4 separate regions of the Homo sapiens genome follow, and all the other regions are linked to region 1. Evidence: fine-mapped expression QTL. A gene starts in region 1. Each other region holds a variant in brackets. All regions are shown on one strand. Distances are from middle to middle. Region 1 holds the start of MARCHF2 (membrane associated ring-CH-type finger 2). Region 2 overlaps CLEC4G (C-type lectin domain family 4 member G). Region 3 overlaps HNRNPM (heterogeneous nuclear ribonucleoprotein M). Region 4 overlaps MARCHF2 (membrane associated ring-CH-type finger 2).

Region 1 (5,145 bases):
CCCCATCTCTACTAAAAATACACAAATTAGCTGGACGTGGTGGTGCGGGCCTGTAATCACAACTACTCAGGAGGCTGAGGCAGGAAAATCACTTGAACCGGTGGCGGAGGTTGCAGTGAGCAGAGAGGGCGCCACTGCACTCCAGTCTGGGCCACAGAATGAGACTCCATCGCCAAAAAAGAAAAAAAAAATTGGTCGGGCGTGGTGGCTCCTGCCTGTAATCCCAGCACTTTGGGAGGCGGAAGTGGGCAGATCACTTGAAGTCAGGCGTTTAAGACCAGCCTGACCAACATAGTGAAACCTGCCTCTACTAAAAACACAAAAATTAGCTGGGCGTGGTGGTGCGGGCCTGTAATCCCAGCTACTCGGGAGGTGAGCCAGGAGAATCCCTTGAACCTGGGAGGCAGAGGTTGCAGTGAGCTGAGACCACACCATTGCACTCCAGCCTGGGTGACAGAGTGAGACTCTGTCTCAAAAAAAAAAAAAAAAAATTAAAATTAAATAAAATATTAAAAACAACAACAACAACAAAACACCACAGTGTAACATACTAACCTCACACTGGAGAAACTGGCAGACACCATTTGAACCAAGTTAGCACAATCGATAGTGGACAAAATCAGCATTGTATGCATCCTGAAAACACAACGTCACATCTGTTTCCTGCCACAAATGCAAAATCATGAGAAAGTATTAGACAAATAGCAATGGAAGGACTTCCTGCAAAATTACTAGCCTGGAATTTTTGAAAAATATTGATGTCATGGAGAGAAGGTAAGATTGATAAAATGTTCCAGAAAGAGAGACTAAATTAGAGTCGTTAACAACAAAATACAATGCTTGATCCTGGGATGGATTTGGGATTTTTTGTTTTTTGACACAGGATCTTGCTCTGTTGCCCAGGCTGGAATGCAGTGGTGAGGTAATGGCTCACTGCAGCCCAGAACTCCTGGGCTCAATTGATCCTCTCACTTCAGCCTCCCAAGTAGCTGGGACCACAGGAGGATGCCACCACAACTGGCTAATATTTTTATTTTATTTTGTAGAGATGGGGTCTCACTGTGCTGCCCAGACTGATCTCAGACTCCTAGACCCAAGAGACCTTCCTGCCTTGGGCTCCCAAAGAGCTGGGATTGCAGACATGACTCACTGTGCCTGGCCTGGACTTTGGATTTTTAAAGGACTTTATTGGAAACTTTTCTTTTCTTTTTTTTGAGACAGAGTCTGGCTGTGTTGCCCAGGTTAGAGTGCAGTGGCAAGATCTCCGCTCACTGCAACCTCCACCTTGCAGATTCAAGCAATTCTCCTGCCTCAGCCTCCTGAGTAGCTGGAATTACAGGTGCCCACAACAAAACCCAGCTAATTATTTGTATTTTTAGTACAGACAGGGTTTCACCATGTTGGCCGGGCTGGTCTCGAACTCCTGACCTCAAATGATCCAAGTGCTGGGATTACAGGCATGAGTCACTGCACCTGGCCTTTGAATGGGCTCTGGGAATTACATGATAATATTAGATGAACATTAATTTTCTGATTTTGAAGGTTATACTGTGATTATGTGCAAAAGTGTGCTTATACTAAGTGAACATATAGTGCAGTATTTTTTTAAAAATTGATCTGTCTTAGAGATGGGGGTGGGTGAGTTTACTATGTTGCCCAGACTGGCCTCGAACTCCTGGGCTCAAGTGATCCTCTTGCCTCAGCCTCCAGAGCAGCTGGGACTACAGGCCTGGGCCACCACACTTGGCTAACTTTTATTTTATTTTATTTTATTATTTATTTATTTATGTATTTATTTGAGACAGAGTCTCACTCTGTCACCCAGGCTGGAGTGCAGTGGCGCGATGTCGGCTCACTGCAAGCTCTGCCTCCCGGGTTCACGCCATTCCTCTGCCTCAGCCTCCCGAGTAGCTGGGACTACAGGCGCCCGCCACCACGCCCGGCTAATTTTTTTGTATTTTTAGTAGAGACGGGGTTTCACCGTGTTAGCCAGGATGGTCTCGATCTCCTGACCTCGTGATCCGCCCGCCTCGGCTTCCCAAAGTGCTAGGATTACAGGCGTGAGCCACCGCGCCCATCCTTTTAAATTTTTTGTAGAGACGGGAACTCACCATGTTGCCCAGGCTGGTCCCCAACATCTGGCCTCAAGCGATCCTTCCGTCTCGGCCTCCCAAAGTGCTCCGATTACAGGCATGAGCCACTGCACCCGGCCAGTCTCAAAAAAAAAAAAGTTAAATTCTGCAGAGGTTTTATTTATTAGAGGACGCTGGCCGTCTGCAGGTGGCGCAGCAGCACCCCCTCGTGCCTGGGGCGGGGCTGGGGCGGGGCCAGTGCTGGGGCGGAGCCGGAGCTGGGGGCGGAGCCAAGACGCGGCAGGGGCGGAGCCAGCAGCTGCGGCACAGCGGGGCCTGTGCGGCCCAAGTCGTCCCTGTGGCCTCCGGCCCCGCCTCTTAGGGCGGGACGTGCAAGGCGATTGGCGAATGCAGGCGAGAGGCGGTCGCTATTGGTCCGCGGCGCTGTCGGCTCGGCGGGCGGTGCCCGGACGCAGGTGCCGGCCGGAGCGGAGCTAGTGGCGCCGACGGGCCGGGCCGGGCCGGGACCGGGGCCGAGGCGAACCGAGGGGCCTGTGCGGCCGCCCGGCCCGGCCGCGGATCAGGTAGGCACGGGCCTGCAGGTAGGGCCGGAGGACGCCAGTCCGCGGGCCGGCCCCGGGTTCGAGGCCGGAGCTCGGCACCCGGGCGGGACGGCTGGGCTCGATCCCTTGGCCACAGCCTTCTCGGGGACGCGGGGACCTCAGTTCCCGTGTCAAGGCCGGTGGGAGGTCTCCGGGGTCCGGCACACATAGGCGCCTCTCCGAGCCTCGGTTTCCCCACCTGTGAAACTGGGTCATCCCATTGCCAACCTGATGGGGCTTCTGGGAGGATTCAGGAGGTGGCTGGTGCAGAAAACGCCTGACACACAGTAGGCAACTGCTAAGTGGCCAATGCCCTTCCCCAACCTCCTTCTCAGAGCGGCTCTGCCTGCAAAATAGTAAGTTATAATATAATGACCCAGCCACTTTGCACAAAGATGCTGAAACAGGATGCCCTGTGCTATGTGGGTGCTCAAAACGGGGTAGTCAAATGGGCATGTTGAGCTCATTCAGTTCTTTTGAAACCATACTGAGTAGGTGGAAGCAGTAGAAATGTCCCCTGTTATACAGTTGAGAGAGTCCAGGCTCAAAGAGGTTAAGTGTCTTGCCCAGGGCCACACAGCACATAAGGAGTAGAGCTGGGATTGGAACCTTGCTTCTCATGCAGGGAGGAATGAATGCAATAACAACCTCCACATTTACCCTAAAAAATATTAATAGAGCTTTTATTGAGCACTTACTGTGTGTGCCAGGGTTGACTGTGTGACCTCTCATCAACAACTCTGTAAGCTGATGATAGTAATTATAATAAGAGCTAATAGTTATTAACTTCTTAATTTTTTACTAATTTATGAACTACATATCATTATGACTCCCCGTCTTTTTTTTTTTTAGACAGAGTCTCTCTCTCTTGCCCAGGCTGGAATGCAGTGGCACGATCTGAGCTCATTGCAACCTCTGCCTCCCAGATTCAAGCGATTCCTACCTCACCCTGGTCAAGTAGTTGGGATTACAGGCCCCCGCCACCGTGCCTGGCCAATTTTTGTCTTTTTAGCAGAAACGGGGTTTCACCATGTTGACCAGGCTGGTCTCGAACTCCTGGCCTCAAGTGATCCACCTTCCTTGAACTCCCAAAGTGCACAAAGTGCTGGGATTACAGGCGTGAGCCACTGCGCCCGGCCTGTAACACTCATTTTAGAGATGATAATACTGAGGCTGAGAGAGTAAAACAGCTGCCTGAGACCACAATGTAGGGAGTTTTAGGGCCCTCTGATTCCTCTGCCCTCTGTTTCCTACCTTCAGGAAAAGGAGCCTGGGCAGGTATGGAAAAGACTGGGGGGCCTCAGTGCCACCCTAAACAAGCCTAGCTAAGGGTGAGCTTTACTGGATGAATTCAGCCTGGAGGCTCCTTCTCAGGAGACCCCTCCACGGACAGAGTCCACCAGCTCCATCATTAGAATGAGGCCCAGAGAAGCAAAGTGACTTGAACCAGGACACCCAGCATCGGTGGCATAGCCAGGAGGGCCAGGAGTTAAAGAACCCAGGTCTCTTGAGGTCCAGAACCACTCCCTGGACTGTTTTAAGTTCAAATTCTGACACCACCCCTTCCTAGCTATATGACCTTGGGAAAGTAGGTGCCTCTCTCCGAGCTTCAGCCTCTTTCCCCATCATAGGGTGTAATTATTGGTTTGTTGTGAAGACTCAATGAGATCTATCTCCAGGCCGGGCGTGGTGGCTCATGCCTGTAATCCCAACACTTTGAGAGGCCAAGGCGGGCAGATCACTAGGCCAGGAGTTCAGGACCAGCCTGGGCAACTTGGCAAAACACCATTTCTACAAAAAAATACAAAAATTAGCTGGATGTGGTGGTGTGCAGAGCTACTCAGGAGGCTGAGGTGGGAGGATCACCTGAACCTGGGGGCGGTGGAAGCTTCAGTGAGCTGTGATTACTACACTGCCCTCCAGCCTTTTGGGTGACAGATTGAGACCCTGCCTCAAAAGAAAAAAAAAAAAAAACAGACAAAAGAAAGAAAAGAAATAGGCCAGGCGCGGTGACTCATGCCTGTAATCCCAGCACTTTGGGAAGCCAAGGCGGGTGGATCACCTGAGATAAGGAGTTTGAGACCATCCTGGCCAACATGGTGAAACCCCGTCTCTACTAAAAATACAAATAATTAGCCAGCTGTGGGTGGAGGGCACCGGTAATCCCAGCTACTCTGGTGGTTGAGGCAGGAGAATCGCTTGAACCTGGGAGGCGGAGGTTGCAGAGAACCGAGGTGGTGCCATTGCTCTCCACCCTGGGCAACAAGAGTGAAACTCCATCTCAAAAAAAAAAAAACAAAAAAAACAAAAAAAAAAACCAGACAAAAGAAAGAAGAGAAATAAATCTCCTGGGCACTGGGCCAAGTTTGCTGGAGCCATCAGATCACTCTCCCATTTCAGCAGCCTCAGAGCTGAGTCCGACTTGCAGTCACCCTCTCTTTGTGTCCAGCCTCAAGTTTGGCCTCTTCCAG
Region 2 (5,145 bases), 690 kb before region 1:
GGCAGGAGGATCACTTGAGCTCAGGAGCTCAAGACCAACCTGAACAATATGGTGAAACCCCGTCTCTACAAAAAATACAAACATTAGCTGGACAGGGTGGTGACATGTGCCTGTAGTTCCAGCTACTCGAGAGGCTGAGAGGTGGGAGGATCACTTGAGCCCAGAAGGTTGAGGCTGCAGTGAGCTATGATTATGCCACTGCACTCCAGCCTGGGCAACAGGGCAAGACCGGGTCTCAAAAAAAAAAAACAAACAAAACTGAAACACTGAAGGAGTAATTGGATCAATCCTGCCTACATACTGAAACCCCAAAAAAACTCAGGACACCGAGCTCTGGAGCTTCCTGGCTGGTGAACCCATCACCCTGAGAGTGGGGAAGGCATAGAGAGAGTGATGTGTGCTGACGTTATGGGGAAGGACACAGGAGCTCCGTGTTTGGGACCTTCCCAGACCTCACCCTATGTATCTTCTCATTTGGCAGGTCCTGATTTGTATTTTGTTAAGAAAACTGAAATCAGGGCCAGGCACAGTGGCTCATGCCTGTAATCCCAGCACTTTGGGAGGCCAAGGCGGGTGGATCACCAGATCAAAAGAGTGAGACTATCCTGGCTAACATGGTGAAACCCCATCTCTACTAAAAATATAAAAATTAGCCAGGCATGGTGGTGGCGGGCGCCTGTAGTCCCAGCTACTTGGGAGGCTGAGGCAGGAGAATTGCTTGAACCCGGGAGGCAGAGGTTGCAGTGAGCTGAGGTCGCACCGCTGCACTCCAGCCTGGGCGAAAGAGCGAGACACTGTCTCAAAAAACAAACAAAAAAACAAAACAAAACAAAGAACAAAACAAAACAAAAAACAAACTGAAATCGTAAGCATAGCATTTCCTAAGTTCTGGGAGTCATTCTAGTGAATTATGGAACCTGAAGGGGTCATGAGAATTTGTAGGCAGTTGATCAGAAATGTGGGTGGCTGGGGATCCCCAAACTTGTAGCTGGTATCTGAAATGAGAGCAGTCTTGATGGGGACTGTGTCCTTAACCTCTGGGTGGAGTCTGCACTATCTGGGTGAATAGTGGCAGAACTGCATTTAGAATTACAGGAGGCCAGGAGCAGTGGCTCATGCCTGTAATCCCAGTGCTTTGGGAGGCCAAGGTAGGCGAATCACTTGAGCTCAGGAGTTTGAGACCAGCCTGGGCAGCATAATGAGACCGCTTCTCTACAAAAAAATAAAAAAAATTAGCCAGGCATGGTGGCACACGCCTGTAGTCCCAGCTACTCAGGAGGTTGAGGCAGGAGGATTGTTTGAGCCTGGAGGATTGCTTGAACTTGAACCTGGGAAGTCAAGGCTGCCGTGAGCCATGTTCATGCTACCGCACTCCAGCCCAGGTGACAAAGCGAGATCCTGCCTCAAAAAGAAAATTAAAAAAAAAAAAAAAAAAAGGAACCACAGGAGATCATCCTGTACTATCAGGTCAGGCCCTAAATGCAATCCCAACTGTTCATATAAGAAGGAGGCAAGACCAGCCTGGGCAGCATAGTGACACCCCATCTCTACAAAAAAACTAACAAATAGCTGGGTGTGGTGGTGCATGCCTGTAGTCCCAGCTACTTGGGAGGCTGAGGCAGGAGGATTTCTTGAGCCCAGGAGGTTGAGGCTGCAGTGAACTATGATCGTGCTATTACACTCCAGCCTGGGTGACAGAGCAAGACCCTGTCTCAAAAAAAGGTGATTGTGGGGGCATTCCTAGAGAGATTTGATACAGAAGAAGTAATTGTCATGGCTGAAGCTAGATGCTACCCTACTGCCTTTGAAGATGGAAGAAGGGTCCAGGAGTCAAGAAGGATGAGGACAACAGCTCTAGAAAAGCTAAAGAAGAGGTAAAGAAACATTTTCCCTTTGATATGGTTTGGCTGTGTC[C/T]GCCTCCCCAAATCTCACCTTGAATTGTAATAATCCCTGTGGATCAAGGGTGGGGCCAGGTGGAGATAATTGAATCACGGGGGCAGTTTTCCCCATACTGTTCTTGTGGTGGTGTATGAGTCTCTCAAGATCTGATGGTTTTATTTTTTAATTTTTTAATTTTTTTTTTTGAGATGAACTCTTGCTCTGTCACCCAGGCTAGAGTGCAATGGCATGACCTTCGGCTCACTGCAACCTCTGCCTCCTGGGCTCAAGCAGTTCTCCTGCCTCAGCCTCCCGAGTAGCTGGGATTACAGGCGCCTGCCACCACGACCAGCTAATTTTTGTATTTTTAGTAGAGATGGGGTTTCACCATATTGGCCAGGCTGGTCTCTTGGCCAGGCTGGTCCCGAACTCCTGACCTCGTGATCCATCCGCCTTGGCCTCCCAAAGTGCTGGGATTACAAGCGTGAGCCACCATGCCCAGCCTCAAGATCTGATGGTTTTATAAATGAGAGTTCCCCTGCGCAAGTTATCTTGCCTGCCACCATGTAAGACATGCCTTTGCTCTTCCTTTCCTTTCTGCCATGATTGTGAGGCCTCCCCAGCCATGTGGAACTGCGAGTCCATTAAACCTCTTCCCTTTATAACTTACCCAGTATCAGGTATGTCTTTATTAGCAGCATGAGAACGGATTAATACATCCTTAGACCTTGGTTTTTGCCCAGCAAAATCCATTACAGTAGTGGTGGGAAACTCAAACACTCCTCCAAGCCAACTGTGTCTGGAAGTCCAGCAGCCTGGCCCTCAGTCCAGTAGGCAAGTCAATAGGCTCCTGGACTTGCCCAGTGCCTGCTCCAGACTGCAAGTTTAGAAAGATCAGAGGATAGGGGGGTTGACAGGTTACAGCAGTGGAAGAGTTCCACCTGGCCAGGGAATGTGATGGTGTTCCTTCTATTTCCTGCTCAGCTGATGCTGTTATACGGTCCAGCAGCCTGGGGGCTCCCAGCAGCCTGTAGTTCTAGACTCCGTTCTGCACAGAACTAAAAGCTGCCAACCTGTCACTCCCCTGTTGAACCTGTCTCCATGGGAAATTCTTGGAGAGCCCCTAACTCTCCGAGATGGAAGCAAGAAACTGGGAGTGTAGGGTGAATTCAGATCAAAAGTCCCTGGTTGAGAAACCCAGGTTCTATGTAACATATACTGCTGTGTGAATTCAGCAATCTGTATACCTTCCAACCTCCTAGTATTCCTTTTTTTTGAGATATGGTGTCACTGCATTGCCCAGAATGGAGAACAGTGACTATATCAACAGGCAAGATCATAGCTCACTGCCGTCTCAAACTCCTAGGCTTAAGCAATTCTCCCACCTCAGCCTCCCGAGTAACTGGGACTACGAGCTTGCACCACCACACCCACTCTCCAAGCCTTTTTCTTCCTGGACCTTCTGCTTCCAAAGTCCTACCTTCCCAGCTTCATCTACTCAAAATTCCATTGTCCCTTGGAAAATCCACCTTCTCTGGAATGTATTTCCTGACTGACCCATCCAATAGTCACAGACCCTAGATGCACTGAGCAGAAGGGACCTGCTCGTTCCATCAGGGTACCCTGTCCCCCACCTGCCTCAAGGGCCTGTCTCAGGATGCCCATAATCTCCACGAAGACGTGACAGTCTTCTCAAGGACTGCAGTATCTCAGGATGGTCCCTCTCCCCAAAGACAAAGGTGACCCTTCCAAATGCTTCAGGTGTCCTCTCCACACACTCATCCATTACATTACTGGTCATTTTGTTCCTGTACCCCGCTAGACCAGAATGCAGCGGTCCCAGGGGAAAGGACTGCGTCTGACCCATTTCTGTGTCCCCAGCACCCTCTGAGCCAAGCCCCATGCCAGGGACTGAGGAAGTAATGGTGTAGAGTGGGAAACTGCCCCTACCTTCAAGCCCTCCTGGCCCAGGGCAAGTTACCCACCAAAGGCCAAGAGGTCACTGAGAGAGTCCAGGGGTCACTCGTACGGATTAAACTAGGACATCCGGAATAAAGCACAGAAGATCTCGCCAGAGCCAGGATCCTGGATTCATTTCTCAAATATTTATTGATGCTTCCTCAGGCTGCAAAAACAGCTTCCAGTTTGGTGGAAAATGCGAGAAAACCAAACAGCTCCAGTCCTCAGTCACCTAACCTTGGTTAGGGAGAGAAGTGGAGGCATATCACGGGGACGCAGGAGCAGGGATTTTGGAGCTAGTGGAGGTTAGGTTGGGTCTGCGTGAGTGGAGTTAGGATGAGGTCGGCATGGAGGTCCCAGAGCCCAGGCACTGGGCTGGACAGGGCTATGTTGGGCCAAGTGTTTCTGAGACTCAGCAGCGGTGGATGAGGAAGAAAAAACTCTTTGGCAATCAGCTCCAGGAGCCAGGGAGGTGAGCAGCCCCCAGGATACGACATGCTGCAATGGGCGCGGCTCCAGGGCACTGGGCGGGGTCAGCAGTTGTGCCTTTTCTCACAGATCCAGCCGTCCTTCTCGCTGTCACACGGTGCGTCGTTCCACAGCCCCGTGTGCAGCATCATGACACAGTTCTCGCGCCCCCAAGCGTCATTGGGCTCTCCCTGGTTCCAGTGGCTACAGGGGGGTTGAGTGGGGGTGTTGCTGGGAATCTAGACAGAGGATGAACTCGGGGTCCCGCCTTCCTCTTCAGGCTCTAGCCTGTTTATTGCTTGGGTCTACTCTAGACACCCCAACTGTCTAACCTGAGTATACACCTGGTATATAACTTTTTAACGCCCAGAATTTAACCTGAGGACAGTTCCTGGGGTCCAGCCTGCCCATCCCTAAGTATGGAGCCCCAGCCGAGGGGTCCCTGAGATCTAGCCAAAGCATGTCCTCTAGAGCCTAACCTGTCTCCCTCCCCAGGTCTCACCAGGAGCCTTTCCCTCACCTGAAGCTGAGAGAGACTCCGTCCACCCACTGGTAGCCCTGAACCTTGCCCAGATGGCGCACAGCCCTCAGGCCCAGCCAGTAACCACGGCCACGCGTGTTCCGAGTGAGGAAGCCCTAGAAAGGAGGGGACATCTGAGCCTGCAGAGTCCGCCCCGCCCTGCCCCACCGCCTGACCACGCCCCCTCCCCCTGCGCACCTGCTCATCCAGGCCCCCAACGATCACCAGGTGCGCGCTGGCATCTGCGCAGTGATCCTGCGCCGCCGCCCACGTCGTCTTTGGCACAGAGAAAAAGTAGCAGGAGCCCTCGAAGGACAGCC
Region 3 (5,145 bases), 73 kb after region 1:
CTGGGATGACAGATGTGAGCCACCACACCTGGCCCAAATGTACTTTTTCAGCCTGATTTTCCCTCTGAGTATCTTGGCATCTCACCTCCTGACTTCTGTGTTGGGCTGGCTCTGGAGCTCCACGCTGGTACCATTTCCTCCCATTTCTTTTTTTTTTTTTTTTTTTGAGAGACGGAGTCTCACTCTGTCGCCCAGGCTAGAGTGCAGTGGCACGATCTCGGCTCACTGTGACCTCCGTCTCCTGGGTTCAAGCGATTCTCCTGCCTCAGCCTCCCAAGTAGCTGGGACTACGGGCGCACGCCACCATACCCAGCTAATTTTTGCAATTTTAGTAGAGATGGGGTTTCACCATGTTGGCCAGGCTGGTCGCGAACTCCTGACCTTGTTCCGCCCGCCTTGGCCTCCCAAAGTACTGGGATTACAGGCATGAGCCACCACACCCAGCTGCCCCACCTCATTTCTGATGCCTTTGGGCAAAGTGCCCATTCTCGCTAGGTTCCTTATACTGTGGGGAAGTTCTGAGACGTCTCCCCTCTGAAAGTCACACATTCTTAGAGTCGGGCCTGCTTTGGCCGCTCACTGTGTGCTGTGCAGCTAGAGAAGCAGGCGCGGTGTGGCCAGTTACAGAGCCAGTTAGAGAAACTGCCCAGTTTCCTCTTGAATTGGTATCTTTGACTAGGCTGCTTGGGTCGGTCACAGGCTGGCTCTGGGCTGATGGCCACTCTCAGAGGCAAGCGACAGGGTTTCGGGGAGGAGCCCCAAACTCGGCATGTGGAAAGGGGTGGCCTTGCTGACGGAGCCAGACCCTGCTTTCCAGAGTTGCAAGCACCACGGGTGGGGGCGTCCCTTCGTTCTGCTGACTGACCCCCAGCCGCTACCAGAGCCCACTCTGCAGTGCCATCAACATCTTCTTTCCAAAGCCAGCAAGTCATTTGGTTTCCCTGACAATAGGGTCCCCAAAAGTGGCCAGCTGTGTGCATTTGTACACAGAGGATCTCTCGGTGTGTGTTTTTTTGACCTCTGCTTGATGGTGTGGCCGAAAATCCTTTCTCTGTGCCCTGGGAGCGCTGAGGAAATGCAGCCAGAGTGGCCCCCAGCAGAGCATCCTAGAGGGACAGGCTGGGAGGGGAAGGTGGGAGTGACTCCGACTTGTCTCCACATAACTCCTGTTCATTACCCTGGGTGGCCCCCCGAGTGGGGGGTGTCCATGCCTCCCCCTGGAGCATTTCTCAGTGTCTGCTGATGGAGAAACCTCAGATGTCTCAGGAATTGACGTCCATGGTTCACAAAGCTTGTCACAGACACTAGCACCTCACAGACACACATACAGGGGTGTTCTTTAGAAGTTGTGTTATGGAAATCTCAGCTGTGGCATAGAGCAGAGAGAATGCTGGGAGGCCCCCATGTGCCCACCACACAGCTGTAGCTGTTGTCAACATTTGAGGGGTGTCTTAATGGTAAATTATGGTGGGCCTTTACCCCTGATCCATGCCCATGAGCTGAAGTGGTCTGGCGTGTTGTGCACACGCACACTCAAGTTCTTGACACCCACCTGTGTTTTGTGTCCCTGTTTCAGGTGGAGGTGGAGGAAGCGTCCCTGGGATCGAGAGGATGGGTCCTGGCATTGACCGCCTCGGGGGTGCCGGCATGGAGCGCATGGGCGCGGGCCTGGGCCACGGCATGGATCGCGTGGGCTCCGAGATCGAGCGCATGGGCCTGGTCATGGACCGCATGGGCTCCGTGGAGCGCATGGGCTCCGGCATTGAGCGCATGGGCCCGCTGGGCCTCGACCACATGGCCTCCAGCATTGAGCGCATGGGCCAGACCATGGAGCGCATTGGCTCTGGCGTGGAGCGCATGGGTGCCGGCATGGGCTTCGGCCTTGAGCGCATGGCCGCTCCCATCGACCGTGTGGGCCAGACCATTGAGCGCATGGGCTCTGGCGTGGAGCGCATGGGCCCTGCCATCGAGCGCATGGGCCTGAGCATGGAGCGCATGGTGCCCGCAGGTATGGGAGCTGGCCTGGAGCGCATGGGCCCCGTGATGGATCGCATGGCCACCGGCCTGGAGCGCATGGGCGCCAACAATCTGGAGCGGATGGGCCTGGAGCGCATGGGCGCCAACAGCCTCGAGCGCATGGGCCTGGAGCGCATGGGTGCCAACAGCCTCGAGCGCATGGGCCCTGCCATGGGCCCGGCCCTGGGCGCTGGCATTGAGCGCATGGGCCTGGCCATGGGTGGCGGTGGCGGTGCCAGCTTTGACCGTGCCATCGAGATGGAGCGTGGCAACTTCGGAGGAAGCTTCGCAGGTTCCTTTGGTGGAGCTGGAGGCCATGCTCCTGGGGTGGCCAGGAAGGCCTGCCAGATATTTGTGAGAAATGTAAGTGGCTCTTGGGGAACTTCTTGGTGGTGGTGAGCATGAGGGGACAGGGGAGGCAAAGATCAGCAGGATGAAGTCAGAGGTGGCGCCCTTCAAAGGGGACCACACCTCCTTGCCACTGTCCCAAACGTTTTATGCTAGTGGGACAAGTAAGGAATGTGAGAACTGTGGGTTCTGGAAGAGCCTGGGCTTCTCCACTGTGCTAGAATATGGAGCAGACGCTGAGCTCAGAGACTCCAGTTT[CTGAT/C]TGGTTGGCTTGAAGAGGCACTATGTGTTGCACGATGGTCCAGGGAAAGAAGTGGCTGTAACGGAATTATTTTCCCCAGCTCAGCCACCCTTAGCCACTATTTAGTGACTGTGGGCTGCGCACCGCAGGCCTGAGTGTCCCATCCTGCACGGTGCTCCCACAGGCAGAGCCCCAGGGAGGGAGCTGGCTGTGCCGCTTCACAGCCTTGTCCCACATGTATCTATTAGTTTCCTGCTGATCGCCTCAGTCTGAAGGGCAGCCAGCTTCTCGGTATAGTGAGAAATCTAGCATGGCCCTCAGAGCCAGCTGCAAGGCATGCCTTAGGATTTGGTTTAATCACGCATCAGTCTCCCTTTTCTTCTCCCCTTCAGCTGCCATTCGATTTCACATGGAAGATGCTAAAGGACAAATTCAACGAGTGCGGTAAGTGTTGGGAACGGCTTTGTAGGTGCTTCCCTCGTGCTTGTTGGTGACGCAGCCGAGTCAGCAGCAAAACCTCCCTCCCAGCCCCCTCCGTCGGCTCAGGACCCATGGCCTTGCCATGTTCTGCCCACGCCAATGCTCAGGCAGGTTGTTGAGTGTCCTGTGATGTGTCACATGTTTTTCAGCTGTGTTCTCATTTCATCCTTACTTCCTTTTTTCTTTTTGAGTCTTTGAAACAAGGTAGTAGTGTCCCCATTTCACAGATGAGTCAGGCAGAGTCTTCCTTCTGAGGTTACCTGGCTTCTAGGTGGCAAGGCTAAATAAATACATCCCAGACGAGGTCGCTTTCCCCTCAGCACAGCTGGTGTGGGGCCTCGGAGAGAACACAGCCCAGCAGGTGCCATGGGGAGGCGGTGCAGGCTCTGGGCACACAGCAGCTCCTGTGAGGGTGAGGCTAAGGTCTTGTGGTTTCCTGGCACATCGGGCAACTCTTCTGGAGGGCTCTGTCTGTGGCTGAAAGCAAGTTGTCTTCCTTCCCTGCCCTCCAGGGTGAGCCCCCACCCCGCATGCACCACCTCTGTTCTTTTTAGCTAGAGGGGCCTGAGCTAGAGGTCTGGGCAGCTGCTTCCGCACTGTCCTCCCGCTTCCTGTTTCAGCAGTGGCTCCGATTTCACCACCATTGCTGCTTCTCCATGGTTCTTGGGGCAAGCCGTTGAGTCATGATCTGCCTCTTTGCTCCATTCTTCACCTCTTTCCCCACTCCTGAGTTCCCATGTTGTAGCTAGATATTCTGAAAAGGCCAGTGGGATCACAGCGCCCCCAGCCCCCACTTTTGCAATGCCTGGAGCGGCCCTGTGCCTTCAAGAGGAAGTCCAGACTCACAAGCCCCTTGAAGACCTGGTCCTATCCTCCTCCATCTCCCTCCTGTCCCAGAACCTGAGCGGCAAGTGCTGCACGTGTCCCGCAATGCTCTCGTGTGAGCCAATTACTGGCAAGTCTTCTTTCTGGTGAATTTCTGTGTAAGCTCACTCAGAACTTGCCCCTGAGGACCCCTCCACCCTACCTGCCCTGGGCCCTCTCTTAGGCACTGAGTTCCCACCTCTGGCATTGTGGCCCTACCACCTTTGGTACTCCTGGAGTAGAGCCTTTGCCCTCTAGGGCTCTGTCCACGGCGTTGACACATATCTGGATGCTTAACGGGTGCTCAAATGAATAAGTGAAACCTGCTGGCTTTCATTTGGACAGTACAGACGTGTCCATTGGATTGCGGATGGCTTTGTAACCAGGGGCGGTGGCATATCAAAAATGAAGACTTTGTAAAATGTATGGGAACTTTCTGCCTATAAAGCTGGCTTTACACTGCGCCTTCTTTTTTGAACTTCCTGAAGCGTAAAGGCGTGCATTGAATCCGCCAGGAAGGCTTTTCATGGGGCAGGGGCAGGCTCTGTTAGCAGAAGAATGGCAGTGTGGCTGAGGGGGCCGTAGTCATTGGTTCTCGCCATTGTATTCTGAGCCTTTGTGCTCTAGGCTTCAGGGCCTCTCCTTTTTGACTCTGTCCACCAAAATCTAACAAAATCGGGACTGAGTGTCGTCTCTTCTTCCCTCCCTGTCCTAGGCCACGTGCTGTACGCCGACATCAAGATGGAGAATGGGAAGTCCAAGGGGTGTGGCGTGGTTAAGTTCGAGTCGCCAGAGGTGGCCGAGAGAGCCTGCCGGATGATGAATGGCATGAAGCTGAGTGGCCGAGAGATTGACGTTCGAATTGATAGAAACGCTTAAGCAGTTGCCTTTTTTAAACATCGATACGAGACCTCTGAATTTGTATTTTTTCTTGTTAACCATTTTAATTTGTTGGCTGGATGTATAAAGATGTTTAAAAAATTCAGTTGCTTTTTGGGGTAATTTGAATTACTTTTTTAATGACTGGGGTTCCATTTGACTGTTTGCATTGAGATTGCAATGTGCGCAATTTTTTTTGTAGTTGTGGCATCTTGTTGACATCGAATATGACTTTGATAATAAATACCGGTTCCTGAAAACGGCCTGCTTGTGTGTGCTGTGTGGGCAACCACGCGAGGTGTGGGGAGCTGGGGTCA
Region 4 (5,145 bases), 25 kb after region 1:
AAATTTTTTTATAGACTAATTTTTAGAGCAATTTTAGGTTCACAGCAAAATTTAGCAGAAAGTACAGAGAGTTCCTGTATATCACCCTGCTCCATACGCACACAACTTGCACAGCCTCCCCCACTATTAACATCGTTTACCCAAGCAGTGCATTTGTTACAATCAGTGAACCTTCATTATCCCTTTAAAGCCATAGTTCACATTAGGATTCACTTCTTTTGTTTGTTTGTTTTGAGATGGTATCTCGCCCTGTCTCTCAGACTGGAGTGCAGTGGTGTGATCTCCGCTCACTGCAACCTCTACCTCCTGGGCTCAAGCGATCCTCCCACCTCGGCCCTCCCAAGTAACTAGGACCATAGGTGCCCACTACCACACCTGGCTAGTTTTTGTATTTTTTGTAGAGACAGTGTTTTGCTATGTTGTTGTATCTGGTCTTAAACTCCTGGGCTCAAACCTTGGCTTCCCAGAGTGCTGGGATTATAGGTGTGAGCCACTGCACCTGGCCTGTGTGTGTGTGTGTGTGTGTGTGTGTGTGTGTGTGTGGCGGGGAGGGGATAGGATTGTTCTTTGTCACCCAGGCTGCAGTGCAGTGTGGCGTGATCATGGCTCACTGCAGCCTCAACCTCCCAGGCTCAATTGATCCTCCCACCTCAGCTTCCTGAGTAGCTAGTATTACAGATGTGTGCACCACGCCTGGCTAATTTTTGTATTTTTTTGGTGGAGACCGGGTTTTGCCATGTTGCCCAGGCTAGGAGTTGACTCTTGCTGTTGGACATTTATAAGTTTTGATGAATGTATAATGACATGTATTCACTATTTTTTTTTTTGGGGGGGACAGAGTCTCACTGTGTGCCAGGCTGGAGTGCAGTGGTGCGATCTTGGCTCACTGCAACTTCCGCCTCCTGGGTTCAAGCGATTCTCCTGCCTCAGCCTCCCGAGTAGCTGGGACTACAGGCCTGTGCCACCACGCCCAGCTAATTTTTGTATTCTTATTGGAGATGGGGTTTCACCATGTTGGCCAGGATGGTCTCGATCTCTTGACCTCGTGATCTGCCCACCTTGGCCTCCCAAAGGGCTAGGATTACAGGTGTGAGCCACTGCACCCAGCCATATTCACCATTATAATATCAGACAGAGTAGTTTCGTTGCCCTAAAAGTCCTCTGTGCTCTCTCTATTCATGCCACCCTCCTTTTCCCCAAGCCCTATCCACTGCTGATCTTTTTACTGTCTCCATGGTTTAGCCTTTTCCAGAATGTCCTATAGTTGGAGTCATTCAGTATGCAGCATCTTCAGGTTGGTTTATTTCATTTGGTGATAAGCATTTAAGGTTATTTTCGTGGCTTAAGGGCTTTCTTTTTTTTTTTTTTTTTTTTTTTGAGGCAGAGTCTCGCTCTTTCACCCAGGCTGGAGTGAAGTGGAGCGATCTCGGCTTACCGCAGCCTCCGCACCCCTCCCCCACAGGTTCAAGCGATTCTCTTGCCTCAGCCTCCTGAGTAGCTGGAATTACAGGCACCCGCCACCATGCCTGGCTAATTTTGTATTTTTAATAGAGATGGGATTTCTCCATGTTGGTCAGGCTGGTCTCAAACTCTGGACCTCAGGTGATCCACCCACCTTGGCCTCCCAAAGTGCTGGGATTACAGGTTTGAGCCACTGCGCCCAGCATTTTTTTTTTTTTTTTTGAGACAGGATCTCACTCTGTTGGATTGCAGTGGCGTGAGCACAGCTTGCTGCAGCGTCAACCTCCAGGGCTCAAATGATTCTCCTACCCCAGCCTCCTAAGTAGCTGGGACCACAGGCCTGGGCCACCACACCTGGCTAATTTTTAAATATTTGGTAGAGACAAGGTCTCGCTATGTTGCCTAGGCTGGCCTTCGACTCCTGAGCTCAAGTGGTCCCCACGCCTCGACCTCCTAAAGTGCTGGGATTACAGGCATGAGCCACCTTACCCAGCTTCGTTTCTTTTTAGCACTGAATAAGATCTCATTATCTGGAAGCACCACTGTTTATTTATTCATTCACCTATTTTTTTTTTTTTTTTTTTTGAGACGGAGTCTCGCTCTGTCGCCCAGGCTGGAGTGCCGTGGTGCGATCTCGGCTCACTGCAAGCTCTGCCTCCCAGGTTCACACCATTCTCCTGCCTCAGCGTCCCGAGTAGCTGGGATTACAGGCGCCCACCACCACGGCCGGCTAATTTTTTGTATTTTCAGTAGAGATGGCGTTTCACCGTGTTAGCCAGGATGGTCTCGATCTCCTGACCTCATGATCCACCTGCCTTGGCCTCCCAAAGTGCTGGGATTACAGGCGTGAGCCACCACGCCTGGCCTCATTCACCTATTGAGTGACTTTTTTTTTTTTAAACTTTTTTTTTTTGTTTGCACGTTCTGGTTGCACGTTTTGGCAATTATGTGACTGATTTACATTAAAAAAATTTTTTTGAGACAGGGTCTCACTCTGTCGCCCAGGCTGGAGTGCAGTGGCGTGATTTCGGCTCACTGCGGCCCATATCTCCCAGGCTCAGGCGATTCTCCTGCCTCAGCCTCCCAAGTAGCTGGGACTACAGGTCCGTGCCACCACGCCAGGCTAATTTTTGTATTTTTAGTAGAGACGGGGTTTTTAGTAGAGACAGGGTTTCTCCATGTTGCCCAGGCTGATCTTGAACTCCTGAGCTCAAGTGATCTTCCCCCGTGCCCGGGCTCCCAAACTACTGGGATTACAGGTGTGAGCCACCTCGCCCGGCCTGATTGATTGACATTTAATGCCTTCCAAGAGGCTGTTTCACTCCTTTCCCACTGAGAGGCAGGAAAGGAGCTCCCGTTTGCTTCCTGCTGGTGTGTGTGGGGTGTATCTTGTCTTTGCAGGACTCTGGAAGCTGGTGGGTGTCACCAGGAGTGTGAATGGGTCTGTGTGTGTGCACTTTGTGGGAGGAATGTTCATAAGCCAGCTCTGCTTCTGGAAGCATGAGCCCCAGCCATGGTTTGGGCCAACGCAGGTGCCACCACGGCGACTTGTTTTCCTCCCTTGCGGGTGGAGGCCTCCGCTCACTGCAGGGCTGCCCCACAGGTCTCCTTCCGCTACCACTGCCAGCTGTACTCCGAGTGGAGAAAGACCAACCAGAAAGTTCGCCTGAAGATCC[G/C]GGAGGCGGACAGCCCCGAGGGCCCCCAGCATTCTCCACTGGCAGCTGGACTCCTGAAGAAGGTGGCAGAGGAGACACCAGTATGAATGCTGGGCTCTCCGGACCCTGCAGCAGAGAGGCCAGAGGTAGCTGGTGATACCCTGTCCTGTGGAAGGACTTCCACTTCAACACTTCCACTTCAACAGTTCCCGCACGGCCTGAACGCTTCTTAGGCCAAGAGACACCATGCAGAGCCTAGTCTGTGATCCTGTGTGAAGATATTTTCAGGGTTTTTTTTTTTTTTTTTTTGCATATGGAGGACAGGTGGACATGGTCCTGAGCTCTGGACGGAGCAGGCACCCTGATCTCATTCTGAGGTCCACATGGCACCTTCTGGGCCAGCAGCTGTGGCCGGTGTATCAAGGGCGCCCTTAAAGCTGGAACATTCCAGCAAGCTTCTTGCGCTTCTCTGCACCCGGCAGGCCCACTTTCCTGGCACCCTCGACTTTATATAAAAGTTGCACTGCGTTTCAAAAACCCACCCCTGAATGAATAAAAGGAGCCCTGGCTGGACAAAATGGACTTGTCAGTTATGTTTCTCAAAGGAGGCCTCCCAGGGAGGGACCACATGGAGGTAAAAAAATAACACTGGCGGCCAGCCAGGTGTAGTGACTCACTCCTGTAATCCCAGCACTTTGGGAGGCTGAGGTGGGTGGATCACAAGGTCAAGAGATCGAGACCATCCTGGCTAACATGGTGAAACCCTGTCTCTACTAAAAATATAAAAATTACTTGGGCATGGTGGTGCGCGCCGGTAATCCCAGGTGCTACACAGGAAGCTGATGCAGGAGAATCGCTTGCACCTGGGAGGTGGAGGTTGCAGTGAGCTGAGATGGCGTCACTGCACTCCAACCTGGCGACAGAGAGAGACTCCATCTCCAAAACAAAACAAAACAAAACAACAACAAAAAACACTGGTTGGCCAGGCACAGTGGCTCATGCATGGAATTCCAGCACTTTGGGAGGCTGAGGTGGGCGGATCACAAGGTCAGGAGTTCGAGACCAGCCTAGCCAATATGGTTAAATCTCGTCTCTACTAAAAATACAACATGAGCCAGGCGTGGTGGCAGATACCTGTAGTCCCAGCTACTCGGGAGGCTGAGGCAGGAGAATCGCTTGAACCCGGGAGGCAGGGGTTGCCGTGAGCCAAGATCGCACCATTGCACTCTAGCCTGGGTGAGACAGCGAGACTCTGTCTCAAAAAAAATAAAATAAAATAAAAAACAATAAAAACCACTGGCTTGTTTTGAGGGATCTGTTCTGAAGCCCATGGGAAGAAGCAAAGGCTCAGTCTTCAAGTAAAAATCAGGTAGCAGGGTTATAAAAATGATTTTTAAAATATACATACGGGCTGGGCATGGTGGCTCATGCCTGTAATCACACTTTGAGAGGCCGAGATGGGTGGATCACCTGAGGTCAGGAGTTCGAGACCAGCCTGGCCAACATGGTGAAACCCCATCTCTACTAAAAATACAAAAATTAGCTGGGCGTGGAGACGCACACCTGTAATCCCAGCTACTCGGGAGGCTGAGGCAGGAGAATGGCTTGAACCTGGGAGACAGAGGTTGCAGTTAGCTGAGATCAGTTGCACCACTGCATTTCAGACTGGGTGACATCGTGAAACTCTGTCTCAAAAAATAAAAAATAGAAAAATAAAATAGACATAAGAACAATTTCCTCTTACTTTGCATCTGCCAGTCCACAGACCATGCTGGCCTCTGTTTTTCTTTTTTTGAGATGGGGTCTTGCTCTGTCACCCAGATTGGAGTGCAGAGGCACAATCACACAGCTCACTCCAGCCTCGACCTCCTGGGCTCAGGCAATCCTGTCTCAGCCTCCCTGGCAGCTGGGACAACAGGCATGCACCACTGCGCCTAGCCACTGTTAGTTTTTAGTTAAGTGTAGAGAGTCCAGCATGGGCCAGGCCTGGTGGCTGATGCCTGTAATCCCAGCATTTTGGGAGGCTTCG

What was found. PIP is the estimated chance that this variant, and not a neighbour inherited with it, causes the effect.
Region 2: its variant is fine-mapped to the expression of MARCHF2 in hippocampus (GTEx, PIP 0.93).
Region 3: its variant is fine-mapped to the expression of MARCHF2 in whole blood (TOPMed, PIP above 0.99).
Region 4: its variant is fine-mapped to the expression of MARCHF2 in anterior cingulate cortex (GTEx, PIP 0.98). The same link has a PIP of 0.9 or more in B cells, CD4 T cells, CD8 T cells, NK cells, monocytes and monocytes after LPS.

Annotation. Positions count from the first base shown.
Region 1 is chr19:8,410,765-8,415,909 of GRCh38, forward strand. MARCHF2 (membrane associated ring-CH-type finger 2) reads left to right here and starts at 2,541. Exons shown (of 5, transcript NM_001005415.2): 1 at 2,541-2,656. RefSeq lists enhancers at 1,001-1,295, 2,166-2,666 and silencers at 2,158-2,517, 2,548-2,707, 4,861-5,145.
Region 2 is chr19:7,724,996-7,730,140 of GRCh38, forward strand. It overlaps CLEC4G (C-type lectin domain family 4 member G), which reads right to left. Exons shown (of 9, transcript NM_198492.4): 7 at 5,024-5,145; 8 at 4,826-4,941; 9 at 3,962-4,509. The coding sequence ends at 4,371. Among named protein-coding and RNA genes, the nearest start is that of CLEC4G, 4.5 kb to the right of the region's middle. The variant C/T (reference allele first, on the strand shown) is at 1,915.
Region 3 is chr19:8,484,027-8,489,171 of GRCh38, forward strand. It overlaps HNRNPM (heterogeneous nuclear ribonucleoprotein M), which reads left to right. Exons shown (of 16, transcript NM_005968.5): 14 at 1,577-2,379; 15 at 2,998-3,049; 16 at 4,665-5,088. The coding sequence ends at 4,828. Among named protein-coding and RNA genes, the nearest start is that of PRAM1, 16 kb to the right of the region's middle. RefSeq lists enhancers at 3,154-3,243, 3,534-3,583. The variant CTGAT/C (reference allele first, on the strand shown) is at 2,623.
Region 4 is chr19:8,435,324-8,440,468 of GRCh38, forward strand. It overlaps MARCHF2 (membrane associated ring-CH-type finger 2), which reads left to right. Exons shown (of 5, transcript NM_001005415.2): 5 at 3,065-3,694. The coding sequence ends at 3,223. Among named protein-coding and RNA genes, the nearest start is that of HNRNPM, 7.1 kb to the right of the region's middle. The variant G/C (reference allele first, on the strand shown) is at 3,138.